2 linked regions of the Homo sapiens genome follow. The protein of the gene in region 2 interacts with the protein of the main gene of each other region in a biochemical or structural test. Each region holds a gene or a part of one and is shown on either strand. Other genes may lie near its edges.

Region 1 (3,305 bases), on a different chromosome or scaffold from region 2:
GAGGCAGGAGAATTGCTTGAACCCAGAAGGCAGAGGTTGCAGCGAGCCGAGATCGCGCCACTGCACTCCAGCCTGGCGACAGAACGAGACTCCGTCTTAAAAAAAAGAAAAAAAAAGAAATTTCAGCTATTAAAGGTTCTGCAGAAATAGACCACATAGATATATTAAAATATATGACTTTGGCTGGGTGTGGTGTCTTACATTGAACATTGTGGTTCACAAGGTTCAAGCCCCATCTATCTAAGCCCCCCCCCCCTTTTTTTTAAATCTTTGGGAACTTTGGTTAAAATTTTTAAAGTTTACACAGTGGCTCATGCCTGTAATCTCAGCACTTTGGGAGGTCAATGTGGGCAGATCATTTGAGTCCAGGACTTCCAGACCAGCCTGGACAACATGGCAAAACCCTGTCTCTACAAAAAAATACAAAAAATTGACCAGATGTGATAGTGTGCACCTGTAGTCCCAGCTAGTGGAGAGGGTGAGGTGGGATGATTACCTGACCCAGGAGGTTGAGGCTGCAGTGAGCCATGATTGCACCACTGCACTCCAGCCTGCATGACAGTGAGACCATGTCTCAAAAAAAAAAAACAATTTAGGTTAAGATTGGACAATGAATGTGTGGGTGCAGTCAACTTTTTTTTTTTTTTTTTTTTTCTTTTTTTTTTTTTTGAGAGTCTTGCTCTGTCGCCCAGGCTGGAGTTCAGTGGCTCAATCTCGGCTCACTGCAACCTCCACCTCCTGGGTTCAACCGATTCTCCTGCCTCAGCCTCCCAAGTAGCTGGGATTACAGGCGTGTGCCACCACACCTTGCTGATTTTTGTATTTTTAAAGTTCAGCAGTTGATTCTCCTGTATACCCAACACTGCTCTATTTAAAACGAGGAGGTGGCCTGGCGTAGTGGTTCACGTCTGTAATCCCAACACTTTGGGAGGCCAAGGCGGGCAGATCACAAGGTCAGGAGTTTGATTTTTTTATTTTTTTTGAGACGGAGTCAAGGTCAGGAATTTGAGACCAGCCTGGCCAATATGGTGAAACCCTGTGTCTGTTTTTTTTGTTGTTTTGTTTTTTGTTTTTGTTTTTGTTTTTCTTTTCGAGACAGAGTCTCGCTCTGTCGTCCAGGCTGGAGTGCAGTGGCGCCATCTCGGCTCACTGCAAGCTCCGCTTCCTGGGTTCACGCCATTCTCCTGCCTCACCCTCCCGAGTAGCTGGGACTACAGGTGCCTGCCACCACACCCAGCTAATTTTTTGTATTTTTAGTAGAGACAGGGTTTCACCGTGTTAGCCAGGATGGTCTCGATCTCCTGACCTCATGATCCACCCCTCTCGGCCTCCCAAATTGCTGGGATTACAGGTGTGAGCCACCGCGCCTAGCCGAAACCCCATCTCTACTAAAAATACAAAACTTACTCAGGCATGGTGGCAGGCGCCTGTAGTCCCAGCTACTCGGGAGGCTGAGGCAGGAGAATAGTTTGAACCCGGGAGGTGGTGGTTGCAGTGATCTGAGATCACACCGTTGCACTGCAGCCTGGGCAACACAGCAAGACTCCATCTCAAAAAAAAGAAATTATTTTAAATTATATTTTAGGCTGAGTGCGATGGCCCAGTACACCTGTAATCCCAGCACTTTGAGAGGCTGAAGTAGGAAGATCACTTGAGGCCAAGGGTTTGACACCAGCCCTGGCAACATAATGATGTCCCATCTCTTTTATTTTTAAAAAATTTTAAAAATACATTTGAAAACTTCTAAAAGCATTAAGAAATACATTTCAGCTATTAAGGGTTGTACAAAAATGGTCTACAAGTATATATTAAAATATATGACTTTGACTGGGCGTGGTGGCTCACACTTGTAATCTCAGCACTTTGGGAGGCCCAGGTGGGCAGATCATTTCAGCACAGGAGTCTGAGACCAGCCTGGGCAACGTGGGGAAACCTTGTGTCTACAAAAAACAAAAATACAAAAAAGCCGGGTTTGGTGGCGCTCACCTGGTCACAGCAGCTCAGGACGCTAGGGCAGGAGAATAACCCTGCACTTGGGAGGTCAAGGCTGCAGTGAGCCAAGATCACACCACTGCACTCCAGCCTAGGCAATGGAGTGAGACCTTGTCTCAAAAAAAAAAAAAAAAAAAAAAGACTTTTCTAAATGTTCACATCTGGCATCTTGGCTAAGGGGTAATATCTCCTGTCCTTACCTTTATTTCTATATAGAAGTGGGTTTTTGCTCAAGTTTGTGTCTCTGTTGCAGAGAATGAATATAAATGAAGTTAAATGAATTAGAGCTTTATAAAAGCATTATAGAAATACAAGAAAGAAAAATATATTATCAGTTTATGTATTGTGTGTGCATTTTGTATGTACAAATGCTAAGTGATCCTTCATTTGGGATCCTAGGTCCTTCATTTGATATGCTAATCATGGATGCTTTGTAGGTGCTGGAGCTGGCAGGTAATGCTTCTAAGGATCTCAAAGTAAAGCGTATCACTCCGCGTCACTTGCAGCTTGCAATCCGTGGTGATGAAGAGTTGGATTCTCTTATCAAGGCTACCATAGCTGGGGGTGGTATGTATTACTACTTAAGCCTTGATTCTTATTGGTCTTTCTGACTAATATATCGTTCAGATCAATGATATAGTATATTTGATCGGTTAACTAGAAAGCATATAAACTTTAATTTCATAAATACTAAATCTATAACAATTCTAAGCTTTTCATAATGATCTGAATAAATATTTCACCTTCTAGCCATATGTAATGCTATTTTTATTTTAGCCAGTTCTTTGTCTAAATTTCATATGATACTTAAAGCCTGATGTTTAACATATTTCCCATACTTTTTTAACTGTGTTTGAAAAATGAGTTGGAGAAGTTGCATAACATACACTGGAAAGGGTTGAAATAAATACACTTGAAAAGTGGGTCAGGATCAATGAAAGTGAGAGGTAAGTTGGTGGTTCTTAATCTTCTTTGGATAACCCTCAAAGAACCTCGTGAAAGCTGTGGTTACAGCTGGGCACGGTGGCTCACACCTGTAATCTCAGCACTTTGGGAGGCTGAGAGGCCCCGGATCACCCGAGGTCAGGAGTTCAAGACCAGCCTGGCCAACGTGGTGAAACCCCATCTCTACTAAAAATACAAAAATTAGCTGGGCGTGGTGGTGCACACCTGTAGTCCCAGCTACTCAGGAGGCTGAGGTAGGAGAATCACTTGAACCCAGGACAGAGGTCGCAGTGAGCCAAGATTACACCACTGCACCCCAGCATTGGCGACAAAGTGAGGCCATCTCAAAAAAAAAAAAAAAAAAAAGC
Region 2 (4,226 bases):
CAGGTCACTTCACACAGGGGCTAATATATCAATGGGACAAATTCCTAGAAATGGAACTCCAGAACCAAAAAGTATATGCAGTTGTAATTCTGACAGTATTGCCAAATTGTTCACAGTAAAGACGGGCCCATTTCCAGTCTTACCAGCCATGTGCAAAAACCTTATCTCAGGCCTCTCTGCCGCCACTCATCCCTGCTTGTAAATGTGTCCTCCACACGGTTGTCAGCACCATATTTCTAAAATGCAAATCTGGCAAGTCATTTTCTTGCTTTCCCTGCTTAAAGCCCTTCAGGTCATCTTCACTGCTCTTCAAGGCTTTTCACCATCTAAATATGTCCTGTCCAGGGTGGACTATCAGCCTCACATAGCTACTGAGGCTACATGTGGCCAGTCTGAATCGAGATGTGATGTAAGTATAAGAAAAACACTGGGTTGCAAAGACGTGGTATGATAAAAAGAATGTAAAAATCTCATTACATGCTGAAATGATTAAGTTTTGGATATGTCAAGCTAAATAACATCATTACAGTTAATTTCATCTGTTTCTTTATCCTTTAAAAATTTCCTAAAAATCATTAAAATTAATTTCATCTGTTTCTTTATCCTTTAAAAAATATGGCTGCAAAAATTTTAGAATGAACCTACTGGCTCCCATTGTATTTCTGCTGGACAGTGCCCATCTAGGTAGGCTCTCCCTCCTTCATCCCCTCACCCATCTCCTCTCCTCCCAGGCCCCAGGCCCACTCTGTGCTTCAGACCACAGTGGTCCCTAAGCCTCAGGTGCTTTTCCCCCCAATCCTGTCCTCCCCATCTCGCCGCCACACTCAATTTATTAAGATTCTGCTTGAAACTTCCCCTTGGAGGCCTTGGAGAAGTTTTGCTCCTTGGTTCACAGGTCCGCCTCCCCTCACCAGCCCTTGACATCAGGGCCTTGCTCTGCTCTTTGGGCAGCAAGAAACAATTCAGTGCTGTTGGTTAAATCAAGCAATGGAGGAGAAAAGCCCGCAGAAGCCCGTCTAAAGGGTAGAGTTGGAGGGAGGGAAGGGGTAACAGGTCACAATTACCAGATGAACACATTCAAATTTTCAAAAATGGGTAAGTTTAACATGGATTCAGAATGTGAATTACTTTTTAGGATCAAATAATAGTGGTAACAGCAGTAAGAGTTACAAAGAATAAGAAACACAGGAGAAACTTACTTTCTTTGCATAGTCTACTCACAAGGGAGGCCTGGCCCTGGGACCCGGGTCCGCGCCCGTCCCCCTTCTCCCCGCCCACCTCGAGCCTGCAGGAGAGGGGACCCCGAGGGCCCAGAGGCACCGGACCTACTCACCCGGCAGGCCGCTCTCCTCGGTGCAGACAGCACAGGGAGGAGGGGGAAGCGGCTCTGCCGGGAACAGGGAGGGACCTCCAGGGAAGCGAAACTGAAACTTTGCGCCCAGTCCGCAGGGCGGGCCGCGCCTTTACCGCCCAGCTGCCTCCCGGAGCCCCCGCGCCCTCCCGACGCGCAGAGCCATGGCCTCCCACCTGCGCCCGCCGTCCCCGCTCCTCGTGCGGGTGTACAAGTCCGGCCCCCGAGTACGAAGGAAGCTGGAGAGCTACTTCCAGAGCTCTAAGTCCTCGGGCGGCGGGGAGTGCACGGTCAGCACCCAGGAACACGAAGCCCCGGGCACCTTCCGGGTGGAGTTCAGTGAAAGGGCAGGTGAGCTTCGGGCGGCCAGGCTGCGAAAGCCCTCTGGGGGCCCGGCCCCCGGGTTTCCAGGCGGACCCAGTTCCAGCTGACCTAGGGGAGAGGGCGGGAGAAAGTATGTCACTGTGCGGTGGCGGACAGGGACGGGGCCCTACTGCCAAGAGACTCACTGAGACAGTGAACACTCGGTGGAGGATGGGGCCTCACATGTGCCTGGTGCGGGTCTGGCTGACGGCGCCTTAGTGTGGATGCTTTCCATATCCTCATTCTAACTTAATTTCTCAGCTGTCATCTTCCTTCCCCCAGATGCCTGCCAGCTGCTGTCCTTGTCATTCAGGGATTCCACTTTTATGTTTTAAATAATGGTTCCATTGTTCCATCCATGAACAAAAGGATGTTCCATTTTGTGTTTTTGAGGATTACAAAAGTGATATATGCTCACTATAGAAATAAAAGAGTAAAAAAGAAAACAACCTGAAGATAAACAATGTGACCATTTGGTGTATTTCCTTCCTGCCTTTTTTTATGAATGCCAGCAAACACATGTATATTTACAAAATTCGGAGTCTGCACTTTTGATTCCTGCTGTTGTCACTTACCTGTATAATGAGTATTGAAATGGGAGACTGGGCCGGGTGCGGTGGCTCACGCCTGTAATCCTAGCACTTTGGAGGCCGAGGTTGGTGGATCACCTGAGGCCAGGAGTTCGAGACCAGCCTGGCCAACATGGGGAAATTCCGTCTCTACTAATAATACAAAAATTACCCGGGCATGGTGGTGCGCACCTGTAATCCAAGCTACTCTGGAGGCTGAGGCAGGAGAATCGCTGGAACTCGGGAGGCAGAGAGGTTGCAGTGAGACGAGGTCCTACCATTGCACTCCAGCCTGGGTGACAGAGTGAGACTCCGTCTAAAAAAAAAAAAAAAAAAAAAAAGAAGGAAGGAAGGGAGGGAGGGAGGGAAAGAAGGAAGAAGGAAAGGGGAGACTGGAGACAGTTTTAGAAACATGATGTTTAATCGGTGGACAATGTTCCATTGTCATTAAGCTTTCACTTCTATAGTAAAACTTAATCCGCACACTTTAGAGCTCTTAATAGCTCCCCGACTTTCTCCATCGCCAACCCACCATTCCAGGATGCAGGGAGCAGCCTTACTGGGAGGTGCTGGGGCAGAGTACAGACACAGGAATGAGAGGATTACTTGAAATCTCTCCCATTTTTATGTGTGTATATGTGTGTGTTTAATGTCTCCACTGAAGCTAAGGAGAGAGTGTTGAAAAAAGGAGAGCACCAAATACTTGTTGACGAAAAACCTGTGCCCATTTTCCTGGTACCCACTGAAAATTCAATAAAGAAGAACACGAGACCTCAAATTTCTTCACTGACACAATCACAAGCAGAAACACCGTCTGGTGATATGCATCAACATGAAGGACATATTCCTAATGCTGTGGATTCCTGTCTCCAAAAGGTGAGTATTGAAAGAAGGAGCTGGCTGTGCCTGCGCCTCCTCTCCAGTCACCAGCCTCATGTATTATTGATCCAACACCCATGTGCTGGGCACGTACATGGGAGCCAGGCACTGTTTTAGGCACTGGACACAGAGATGAATATAACAGACAAGGCCCCTGCTCTCAGGCAGCTTATACTGGGGGCCAGGTCATGCACAGAAAGACAGTAGGCAAGTAAACAAAATAAATAAAACCATTTTATTTATTTGGAGAGAAACAGCGCCAGGGCAAGCAAGGGGAAGATGGGGGTGGTGTTACTTCTTTTTTTCCCCCCAAGACAGAGTCTCACTTTATCGCCCAGGCTGGAGTACAGTGGCACAATCATGGCTCACTGCAGAGTTGACCTCCTGGGCTCAAGGGATCCTCTCACCTCAGTCTCCTGAGTAGCTAGGACTATAGGCGCCACTACACCCAGCCAATTTTTTTTTTTTTTGTAGAAACAGAGTCTCACTATGTTGCCCAGGCTGTTCTCAAATTCCTGGGCTCAAGCGATCTGCCCGCCTTGGCCTCCCAAAGTGCTGGGATTACAGTCATGAATTACTGCACCTGGCCTGGTGCTACTTCTAACCAGAAATCAGAGACAACTTGACTGAGGAGGTGATGTTTGGCCTGAAACTTGAATGATGACAAGATTCATTCAACAATAGATATCCACTGCCTACTGTGTTCCAGGCACTGTTATAGGAGCTGGGGAGGCAGCCAGGAACATGGCAGACTCGGCTTCCAGGGACGGCACCTTCTAGAGAGAGAAACAGACAATATTAGTAAACAATAGATATATAATAAAATGTCTGCCAGTCATACCTGCTAGGAAGAAGAATAAGTGACAGACAGTGACAGAACCACCATTTAAAATAGGATGTCTGGAAAAACCTCAAGTGAGGTGACATCTCTAGCCAAGTGGATTTCTGGGCGGAAAGTGTCCTAGAGGGAAGCATAGGTGCAAAGTCCCCAAGAGCTGACATTTTGAGGCCCAGAAGCTTTAAGGAAGCCAGTGTGGTGGGGAGGGCAGTGAGCAATGGAGAGA

The links.
Region 1: of the proteins of DTX3L (region 2) and H2AZ2, one has a biochemical effect on the other in vitro, tested with the Homo sapiens proteins (one study listed by BioGRID).

What each region holds. Positions count from the first base shown.
Region 1 is NC_000007.14:44,834,783-44,838,087, reverse strand, and holds part of H2AZ2 (histone H2A.V), read left to right. Parts: intron 1-2,429; coding exon 2,430-2,559; intron 2,560-3,305. UniProt on the Homo sapiens protein: Variant histone H2A which replaces conventional H2A in a subset of nucleosomes. Nucleosomes wrap and compact DNA into chromatin, limiting DNA accessibility to the cellular machineries which require DNA as a template.
Region 2 is NC_000003.12:122,562,912-122,567,137, forward strand, and holds the start of DTX3L (E3 ubiquitin-protein ligase DTX3L), read left to right. Parts: upstream 1-1,426; 5' UTR 1,427-1,515; coding exon 1,516-1,702; exon of another isoform or gene 1,703-1,873; intron 1,874-2,947; coding exon 2,948-3,159; intron 3,160-4,226.